2 separate regions of the Homo sapiens genome follow, and region 1 is linked to region 2. The links come from fine-mapping of genetic effects on plasma protein levels. Region 2 holds a variant in brackets. A gene starts in the other region. All regions are shown on their reverse strands.

Region 1 (5,356 bases), not on the chromosome of region 2:
CTGCTATCCTCAAAATTTCCTCTCCCCTAACCTCTAGGCTCAAGAACCACCTACCTACACTTCCAACCTCCAGTCTTACCCCAGTAGAGGATGATGTCCTGGCCTCCTAGACTGCTGTGTCTCACTCGACAAGACAGGCCAGCAGGCTCCTCAGATGCCACCTCCAGGATCACCTGAAGATACCATGTCCCATCAGCATTAGGAAGAATATCACCATGTTTAGTGCCCAGTTGCTCCTGTTCATTCCGCATCCATGTCACCCAAACAGGCTTTGGGTAGAAGCCGGAGGCATGACAAACCAGCAACAGCTGGCCAGACCCAAGGCTGGGGCGACTGGACAGCCAGGCTTCTGGCCTCACTGCAGAGAGCAGAAAAAGTGTTCTGATGAAGAAACTTACACACAACTTACATCCACATACACACATCCACATGAATATGCACAGTTATCTTTTTCCTGCCTCTAAGAAACTATTACCCAGCAACCCCCCTGCTTCTTGTCCTCTTTCTTGTCCTGAGTTTGAAGGGTGGGAACAGAAGGGGCAGTACTTGAATAGAAAAATCTTAGAGGAAGGGGCTGAAACTACTGACCTTGCCTGTGTACATACATCTTCCCTGCATCCAGGAGACCCAAGAGAAATCGGGGGCAAGTGCTTCTTATGAGATTATACACTGTTTCTGTGACGCCTTCATACTGATGATTGAGTAGATGACAGACACTTTGGGCCAAACTTCCACAGCCTGGAGATGGCACCCATGTTGTATTCTGGAAACTCAGTAAATCTAATCCGTTGAAAGCTACCTGAAAGAAGCCTTCTGGGCTCTTTCCAGAATGCAGCTCACAGCCCGCTTTCACCTGTACTTCAAAGGGATCTGGAGGAAGGGAGGAATGAGAAAAAGAGTTCAAACAAAAAAGTGAAAACAACAGTATAAAAACCTAGGGCTGTATCAGGAAGTGAAGCAAGAAAGTTTTACATGGATGTGAGAGTGAGCCAAAGACATATTTGATCAGAAACAAGAGAGAAAAATTGCTGGGGATAGGGAAGGGGACAATAAGAGATAAATGCCTTGAATTAACAAGAAAAAGTGGCCAAGGAAGATGTGGAAAAATGATAGGTGAGCCACATAATATAGGATAGAGGGTGAAGGGGGAGCCTTTGTGAGGGAGGTAGGAGGATAGCATTCCATGACGCATGAAATTGGTCATAATGGTCATTGAACTGTGGACATAGATCTTTGAAGAAATTGAATGGGGGAATAGATTTTATTTTAAGGGAGTCAAGCACAGAGTGGGACAGCTGTGTATCTCTGGATTGTAGGATACAGAGGGAGACCACAGGTGGAAGATAACAAAGCACAAGAAAAAAAATTCCAAAAATAGCAAGAGCCTAGGAAATTTGAGGGAGTCAACATCAGGAATATCCCTTAAAAGGTTCATCTATGCAGAATTTTATGGTGGGATGGGATAATGGGAAATGGCCCAAAAATTAGTAGAGAATATTTCCCTGAAATAGAACATTCTAAAGAACTCCCATAATTTAGATGATTGAACTTACATTTCGAGTAATCTTGACTTGCATGGTCTTGAATCTCCCGAGTTAATCCAAAGAGGTAGAAACGAAATAACAACTCTAGGTCTGACAACTCTTCATTGCTGAAGTTGCCCTTGGACCAGTTATGCAGGAAAATTATTGTGCCTGATTCACTGTCCCAGCCATGAGTCTGCAACTCGTCCAGCCATCCTGAGCCCTGACCTCGTGCCCAGGATTGGTTGACAAATGAGAAGATCTGGATGACATGGAAGGAGACGTGTTCCTGGGATGCTTTTGGTGGAAGAAGGGCAAGTAGTGTAAGGAAAAAAAAAAAAAGAGAGGCAAGGAAAATGGAGAGAAAATGGAAGGTGAACCAGTTACCACAGAGAAACATTAATGACTACTTTAGCTATACCATTTTCCTTACACAGAGCCCCATGCTCTGCCACCATCCTCTAAAAGAGTAAACTGGACCTGGAGAGAGGTATGCTCAAATGGCAACCATTCTGGCTTCTTCATTGATCCATCTTGGGAAAGCCCATCATGCTCAACCCAGATACATGTAACCTTGCAGCTGACAGAGATGTTCATACTATCTGCATTGTCACCACCGGGGAGGAGAAGAACTAGCAGCGGAAACTACAGAAACAGCATGTCATTTGCAGTTGTTTCCTTCTCTCAGAAAAGCCATTTGCTGATCTCTGTTCTTAGCAAACTTATCCCTCTACATCTATATTCTGACTTCCTTCTACCAACAGACAATCTTCCCCATCAGCCACTGACAGCAACTAAGACAATCTGCTTCCCTTAACCTTAGGCCTCCTACTCAATCTCTCATTTCCCCATCTGCTCTGAACTAAAGTTACTCTCTTCCCTTAGGATTTTAGCTGCTCTCCCACTAAGCTCCATCTTATCTACTTCCCTTCCTCAACTGCCTTAGACAAAGTGGTGCGTGGCATTGAAAGGTTGCTTCATCCCTCTGGACCTTGCGTGTCATTTGTAACATAAAAAGGAGAAACCACATCATTTTCCTGGGCCCTGATTGTTTTAACGGAAAATGGAGAGGAAATGGAAATTGAACCAGTTACCACAGAGAAACATTAATGACTACTTTAGCTATAACATTTTCCTTACACAGAGCCCATGCTCTGCCACCATCCTCCAAAAGAGTAAACTGGACCTGGAGACAGGTATGCTCAGATGGCAAGCATTCTGGCATCTCTATTGATCCATCTCGGGAAAGCCCAGCACACTCTACCCAGATACATGTAACCTTGCAGCTGACAGCGATGTTCTTACCGTCTGCATTGTCACCACCTGGGAGAAGAAGAGCTAGCAGCAGAAACTGCAGAAACAGCATGTCATTTGCAGATGTTTCTTTCTCTCAGAAAAGCTGTTTGCTGATCTCTGTTCTTAGCAAACTTATCCCTCTGTACCTATATTCTGACTTCCTTCTACCAACAATCTTCCCCATCAGCCGCTGACAGCAACTAAGAAGATCTGCTTCCCTCAACCTTGGTCCTCCTACTCAATCTCTCATTTCCCCACCTGCTCTGAACTAAAGTTATTCTCTTCTCTCAGGATTCCAGCTGCTCTGCCACTAAGCTCCATTATATCTACTTCCCTTCCTCAACTGCCTTAGACAAAGTGGTGTATGGCATTGAAAGAAAGGTCATTTTGTCCCTCTGGATTTTGCATGTCATTTGTAAGATAAAAAGGAGAAACCATGTCATTTTTTCAGTTCCTGCTTGTTTTAATAGATCACAGTTCTTCCAGTTTCTCCACTTAACTTTGCCTCCACTCTCCATAGTGTCCCCTCTTCTCATCACTCCATTCTTTCTTTCCCCCTTTTGAATGTCCTCAAAGTTTTCTCTTTCCAATTTCACCTCTTTTCACCCATCTTTCTTATTTCCTCATTCTCACTGATTCTTTTATAAATTGGAGACGTTGCTTTTTACATCTTCCAAGATTTCCCTGCACAATTATATAAACTACAGTCCACTCTACATTATCCTTAGAGATTAAATTGCAGCCATTCAGAATGCATAGGACCATAACAAATATAAAGAAGCCCTTCTACTGCATTTAATCTGTATAGTCATTCACTAAAAAATTACATAGTACATGGTTGATACCAGTGTCTTACTAGGCATATAAACACACAGAGGTTAACAATGTAATCTCTTCTATCAAAGAGTTTTAAACTGCAGATGTTTAAACAAAAAATTAAAATGCATTGTGATTTTAATTTCAATGTATAGAATCCCAGATACAAATCTACTTAGAACTATATTCTCTAGAGCAGCATTTTGACTGACTAACCCCCTGGGAAGTTCATAATTTGAAGTCCTGGAAGAACAGCATGCATCTCAACTAAATACTGAAAATTCTGTACAGTGTGGAATGGTATACGATTGTGATAGTCAGAACATGCAGCTTTTCAAGAGGACTCATACATGGGGAGACCACAAAAATCCAAATTTAAGTTGTTTTGTGATCTGACCAAAACACATTGTATAAAAAGGGCAGCATTTGTCAATGTTTGATTTAAGTAGTTTATATGAAGTATTCAGTGACTTATCAGTGACCCTGGCTGGTTAATATGTGTAAATACATGAACACAGTTTTTTTGAGATCCAGGAAATACATTTATTATTATAGTGTTTCTTAAATCATATTAATTATTCACTGAATGCATTGGAGCAGTCACTTAAAATCTGGGCATGAATTTGTGCTAGGCACAATGACTCATGCCTGTAATCCCAGCACTTTGGGAGACCAAGGTGGGAAGATCACTTGAGCCCAGGAGTTTGAGACCAGCCTGGGCAACAAAGTTAGACCTCATCTCGATAAAAAAATTAAAAAGTTGGCCAAATGTGGTGGCACATGCCTGTAGTCCCAGCTAAATGGGAGGCAGAGGCAGGAAGATCTTTTGAGCCCTGAAAGTCAGGGCTGTAGTGAGCCATGTTCATGTCACTGTACTCCAGCCTGGGTAACAGAGCAAGACCGTGCCTTAAAAAGGAAAATCCCATTTGTAACATTGTTTCTGTTTTAAATTTATATTTATTCTATGTATTTACTGTGTACAACATGATACTTTGATATATACACTATTTCTTAGGTTTGTCAACGTTAATAGTGAGGCCAGAAGTCATTCTCAATGAGCTCTTCCTATCATGGCCACAGATATGTGGCAATTTCTATGAACTATAATATCTTTAAGAGCAATACCCAGTTCAAATCCTACCCAAATCATTCATAAGCACTAGGTGTTATCTTTGCTCATCTTGTGCTGTTAATGGCAAATACTTGGTTTGTGGTTTTAGAAAACAATAGTAGATACCACATTATGTGTTTATTCACATTTTTTTCCATGTTCCTACAGGAAAGATGCAACTGTCCTATTTCCTAATAGTTGGGTTAAGGTCATGGACTGAGTTCTGGGCAATGGAATGTGTGGTGTTGGAAGCATTAGCCAGCTCCAGTCCTGACCACTGAAAATATCACATCTGATCATCTTACCCTGTGGTACCAACTTGGCAGTCAAATTTCTAAATGGCAAGACTATGAGATGGAGAAGAGCAGCCTGATCTACATGCAGTTTAACTGCATGAGAAATAAACTTCATTGTGTTAAGCCTCCAAGTTCTAAAGTTTATTTATAACTGCAACATAACCTAGCTATATTGGATAATATTATAAAACCCAGTAAGTATCATCCTTTTTGCCCTCTTGAATTCAGAAGCAAACAAGTTGAAAATAACATGAGATAGATGGATCTAATGGTCAATCTTGACTTCTGATAGTGCCACTAGATAATTTGCTTTA
Region 2 (5,379 bases):
CAAAACCACCTCTAGCTGAGAACCAGAGGGCAGAGATTTTGATTTGTTTGGTTTCTTGCTGTATGTCCCTGTGTATACAGTAAGTATCAATACATATTTGTCGAGTGAATCTTGAACAGATGCATCTCACCGACTCACGCTGTTCCCCTTTGCTGGAACGCTTTTCCACTGCCCTTTTCTGGCGCACTCCTACTCATACTTCAAGACCCTGGCAAGGAAATGATATGAGGAAAGTGGGGCATGCAGGGACTGGGTGAACAGGAAAGTACCTACTATGTGCCACTAAGAAAGGGCCTCCCGCAACCCCACTCCCAGGCCTCCTGTGTCCAGTAGGAATGTGGGCCCAGTATGGCCACATCTTCCCATTTTTCAAGAGAAGCCAGAGAAAAGGACTTTATGTGAAATCTCCTGGCATGTCAGATGTTGGCAATTGATTCACATTAAAAAAAAATACTTTAAGGACCAAACTAAACATATCTCCAGAGTGGACCTGTCCCATGGGCAGCTGTCATGGAGGTCTGCTCTAGGAGGCTTGATGGGTACGAACACCTTTGAGGATAACGAAGCTGAAGCAGTTCTTCCTGGCGTCTCACTTGCGTGCCCTCTGTTGTAGCCATTGTGGGAGGGGTTCTCATACAGCTGGGGCAGCTCTGATGGGGGACAGAAGGGCAGAGGTAGCGCCCCCAGCTCTGAGCCGCACCCACAGGCAACACCCAGCCCACCCCAGACCAGCTCCTTGCCCAGCTCAGCCCAGAGTCCAGGGTGGATGGAGTGTGGGGAGGACTCATCATGGGGGCTGTGAGAAGCCTGTTTATGGCTCCAAAATTCCTATGCCCCAGGCCTAGGGGAAATTAGTGCTCGTATGAGGCTGTTCACCTCCAAACTCCTTGGCCTCTCCAAGAAATTAAAAACAGGGAAACCGAGGCAGGACTGAGCTTCATGGAGACCTGGGCCTGCAGGCCTGGGCAGGCTTGGAGGCAGCCAGGAGGCTGACTTCTCTGGAAAGTCCCTTGTATTCGAGAACTGGCGGGGTGCCGGGGAGCGAGGACACCAGGGGTCTCCTAGTCTCAGAGCCTTCTGCCGGATCCAGGAGCTCCTCAAGCGTCTGCCCTTTCTGGGACAGAACTTTCCAGCAACAGAAAGTTGAGGAAGCCCCTCTCTGGAAACCCTGAGCCTCCTTGATGGGGCTTGCATTCTGCTTTGGGGCAGAATGTGGGACTGTGGGACAGGAGGACGGGGCGTGAACCCCAGTCCTAAGCCCAGATGTCGGCTGGAGATCCTCAAAGCCAGGGCCTCTTCTCAAGAGTCTGATGGCCCCACCAGCCATTTCTCTCACCCAGACCCCAAGTCAGACTGGACACTGTCACCATTGTCCTGGAGGCCAAGAGACCCGCAGACCAGAATTCAAAGCCTTGCCCCGCTGCGGGCTGAGACAGTCGCTTGGGCTCTGTGGTCTCATTCCTGCATCTGTAAAATGCATCCTTCCATTGTAGGAATTCAACAAGCACATGACATGGGGCTGGTGCTGGGCAGAGGAGAGAAGAAGTGACAGTGAGCACGCACCCTGGGCTGGTGCTGAACCCGCCACACACGTCCTTCTTCCCTTCTCACCACAAAACCCTGCATCTGTTCATTCAATGCTGGATGAGTGCCCCCTATGTGCCAGGCTCTGAGATTTAATGGAGGACAGTGGAGAACTGGCCTCTGCCTGCTGGGAGCTTACAGTCTGGCCAATGGGGAGTTATGAACCCCCTAAATTATTGTGTCAAGTAGTGGTCAGTGTTATGGGAAAACATTCACGCAGGGTGAAGAGGTAAGGCCAGGGGAGCAATTTGGAAGGGCCGGGGGTCAGAGCAGGACCCCCGGGGTCATTTAAGCAGACACCCAGATCAGGAGAGGGAAGAAGCCCTGTGGCTATCTGGAGGAAGGATGCTGAAGGCAGCGGAAACAGTGTGTGCAAAAGCCCCGAGGTAGGCGTGTGCTTAGCATGTTGGAGGAACAAAGAGGAGCCCAGTGTGGCAGGGGTAGAGGGAACCAGAGAGAGTGAGTAAGAGGAGATGGGCCAGGCGCGGTGACTCACACCTGTAATCCCAAGCACTTTGGAAGGCCAAGGTGGGCAGATCACTTGAGCTCAGGAGTTCGAGACCAGCCTGGGCAACATGGCAAAACCCCATCTCTACTACAAAAAATACAAAAATTAGCTGGCCGTGGAGGCATGTGTCTGTAGTCCTACCTATCTGGGAGGCTGAGGTGAGAGGATGACTTGAGCCCAGGAGGTTGAGGCTGTAGTGAGATGTGTTGGCACCACTGCACTCCAGCCTGGGTGACAAAGTGAGACCCTGTCTTAAAAAAAAAAAAAAAAAAAGAGACAGAGAGAGAGAGATGAGGTTATAAGGGAAGCATGGGAAAGATCTTGTAGGGCCTGGTAGGCCACAGAGATCTTTGACTTTCTGCCAAGTGAGGTGGGAGCCGTGGGAGGGTTTTGAGCACAGGAAGGTCATGTCCTGACCTCCTATACTCATCCTCATCTTAAAGGTGAGGAAACTGAGTCTCAGAGAGGTGAAGTTACCCACCCAAGGTCACACAGCCAGCAAGTGGCAGAGCTGGAGTTTGCCCCCACATCCCTGTGGCTCCCAAAGCCAGCCTCTTCCCATCCCATCAGCTGCCTCTGTGTCTGGCGTGAGTCAGGAGGCTGGATTGCTGGGAGGGGGAGAGCTTTTTAGAGCTGCTTTTTGGAGCCTCCTGGCTCTGCCTGGCACATCCCCTCCTTCCCCACCCATGCCTTCTCCCTTGCCCTCAGCCACCCCCAGCTGCCTGCGGTGAGTGCCTAACATTTAAGGCTATCCCCTCCCAAGTGCAGATTGGATTTTTTTCTTTCCATAAGTCCCCATTATGCCCCAGTAGACTGGATTTTGGGCAATAGAAAAAACGAGCCTAAAGAACTCCAGCGCTAATTGGGGGTGACAGGCAGGGGCTCGGGGCCTCTGGAGCAGCCTGGCTCTGTCTCTAATTTGCAGAGTGGCCAGGGTAAGTCCCTGGCTTCCAAAGTCATGCTTGTTTGAAGGACAATCACTTTCTTTTTCTTGTAAAAGGAAGATAAATTGTCAGCCTGTCGGTTTCATTATGAGCTCGTCCGCTGTCTTTCCAGTAACTGAGGGCGAGAGGCTGAGCCGCTGCCCAGAGGCTGCCTGTGAGGCCTTGGGGGCTGTGGTTGATGCCACCTGGCC[T/C]CCTTCGCATCACCTCCCTCTCAACACCCCTCCCACCCCCTCCAATAATTGTGGTATTTGGTTTTCCCTCAACACCAAATGTGAAACTCTCCTGGAGGGAGTGCAAAAGGAAGTCTGTGAATCTCTGAACTGTGGTTGAATGAAGGTATTCTTAGGCGCCTGCTTGCAAGGATGGTGAACTTCTGGTGCTAAAAGCAGAATTGCTTTTCAGTAAATGTTATTACTCAAAAGGAAGTTGTTACCACCACAGCCACCTCGAGCCTCTTCCAACTGCCACTCTGTCTGCCAGGCCAAGTGGGGAAAGGGTCTCTCAGTGGCTCCCAATGACCCCATCCAGCCCCCAGGGGAAGGTCTTGCTATCTCAGCTGACCCTGGAGGCCTGAAGCTGAAGTGCAAACAACCACAGTCTGCCTAGGCAGAGTATCTCAAGGTAGGGGCTGTTTGCTGACTCAGCATTTAAAAGTCCCAAAGCTTGAGTGATCTTGGCTGAGCTGGGCTGGAGCTACAGGTGGGGTTGGGGGCACACAAGAAAGCTGCCCGTTGGCTGCAAGGTTGGCTGTTTTTTGAGAGCTGTTGTCCATCTTGGCAATGCACCTTGCCTAACCCCTATTTCCTCTTCTCTAAAATGGAAAGGTGATCATACCTCAATGGAAAGAGCTAGCATATTGATTACTCTAGTAGATACTTAATAAGTGGTGAGGTTATTATCAACAGTGAAAATGATTCTGGATTTAAATCAGACAGACCAGGGCTCAGATCTCAGCTCTGCCACCTACTAGTTGCACAACCTTGGACAAGTCCATTCCCCTCACCAAGTCTCGGTTTTCTCTGGATCACGCAGGAGTGATTATAGCACCTACTGCTCAAAGTTGTTGGGAGAATTCCGTGAGCTGCAGCACGTAAGTCACAAGGCACACAATAGGTATGCAGTAGGCATGGGTTCCACTCCTGCTCCATTTTGCCTTACAGAGGATCACCCCCCAGGCTGTGTCCCCACCTGAGCAGTCCCAACCACAGGCTCCAGGTGGAGAGACACCCATGAAAGTTTGCACCCACCGGGGTCCAGAGGGCAGACAAGAAGCGACCAGGCCAAACTCAGGGGAGTGGAATGGACCACTCAGCAGACACTTCCCTGCAAGAAAGAAGTCAAAACAAACCCCCTGGCTGGTGAGACATGATCCCAATCTAGAGCTCTCAGAGGATGCTCTCGGGTCCAATCCTCTGCCTGCCTCTACCTGTAGCCTTTTCTACAGCCCGGAAAAGTGGCAATTTCATTTACTGGGCAGCCACTGCAAGTGAGCATTGTGCTCTGCATGTCTCATGAATCACGTCATCGTGTCCCCCCAGCAACCCCACGAGACAGTTCCTCTCATTGCTCAGCACCTGCAGGTGTGGAAACTGAGGCCCAAGGAGGTGAAGGGACTGGTAGCTGAGATTTGAACCCAGCCCATCCCATTGTCAAGTCACACACATAATCACCGCACTACTTCCGTTATCTGAGAACAGTGTGTCTGTGTTACCAAAGATATAATTATATTTAGTAGTGTCTGGGTATAGAAAATTGTATAATATATTCTTTTTAAAATGTATTCTTTTGAGATTATTATAGATTTACATGCAGTTGTAAGAAATAAACAGAGAGAGTCCATATACCCTTTCCAGTTTCCCCCAATGTTAACAGTCACAATAAAGATATTGACAGTGATATAGTCAAGATACAGACATTTCTATCACCACGAGGATCCCTCATTGCCCTTGTATAACCAAACCCATCTCCCACCCCCAACCCTGCCCCCGAGCCATGGCAACCACTAATCTGTTCTCCATTTCTATAATTGTGTGGTTTCAAGAATGTTACATAAATGGAATCATATAGTTTATGTAACCTTTGAGGACTGGTTTTTTTCACTCAGCATAATTCTCTGAAGATTTATTCAAATTGTGTGTTATCAATATTTTATTCCTTTGTATTGCAAGTAGCAGTCCATAGTATGGATATAACACAGCTTTTTTTAGTTAAAAAAAACCATAGACAGGCTTCCGGGTGGTTTACCAGTTTTTGCCTATTATGAAGAGAGCTGCTATGAAGATTTGAGCATAAGTTTTTGCACAAACATAAGTTTTCATTTTTATGTCCAGGATTGCAACTGCC

Alleles and levels. Alleles are on the strand shown, and positions count from the first base shown. The strength of an association depends on the size of the effect and on how common the allele is.
For the plasma level of the protein whose gene starts at base 3,031 in region 1, T is the low allele of the variant in region 2 and C is the other (weak association).

The links. A credible set is the group of variants that fine-mapping cannot tell apart. PIP is the chance, under the fine-mapping model, that this variant and not a neighbour inherited with it causes the effect. The UK Biobank Pharma Proteomics Project read protein levels with antibody pairs (Olink). The fine-mapping took linkage between variants from a reference panel, not from the people measured, so its PIPs are less certain.
Region 1: it holds the start of CD1C, and the variant in region 2 is the best candidate, but not a certain one, in a credible set for the plasma level of the CD1C protein (UK Biobank, PIP 0.81).

Annotation. Positions count from the first base shown.
Region 1 is chr1:158,287,598-158,292,953 of GRCh38, reverse strand. It overlaps CD1C (CD1c molecule), which reads right to left and starts at 3,031. Exons shown (of 6, transcript NM_001765.3): 1 at 2,829-3,031; 2 at 1,554-1,820; 3 at 589-870; 4 at 80-358. The coding sequence starts at 2,889. It also overlaps a transcript of CD1B not described here.
Region 2 is chr20:50,336,907-50,342,285 of GRCh38, reverse strand. No RefSeq gene overlaps it. Among named protein-coding and RNA genes, the nearest start is that of LINC01271, 18 kb to the right of the region's middle. RefSeq lists an enhancer at 2,973-3,172. The variant T/C (reference allele first, on the strand shown) is at 3,228.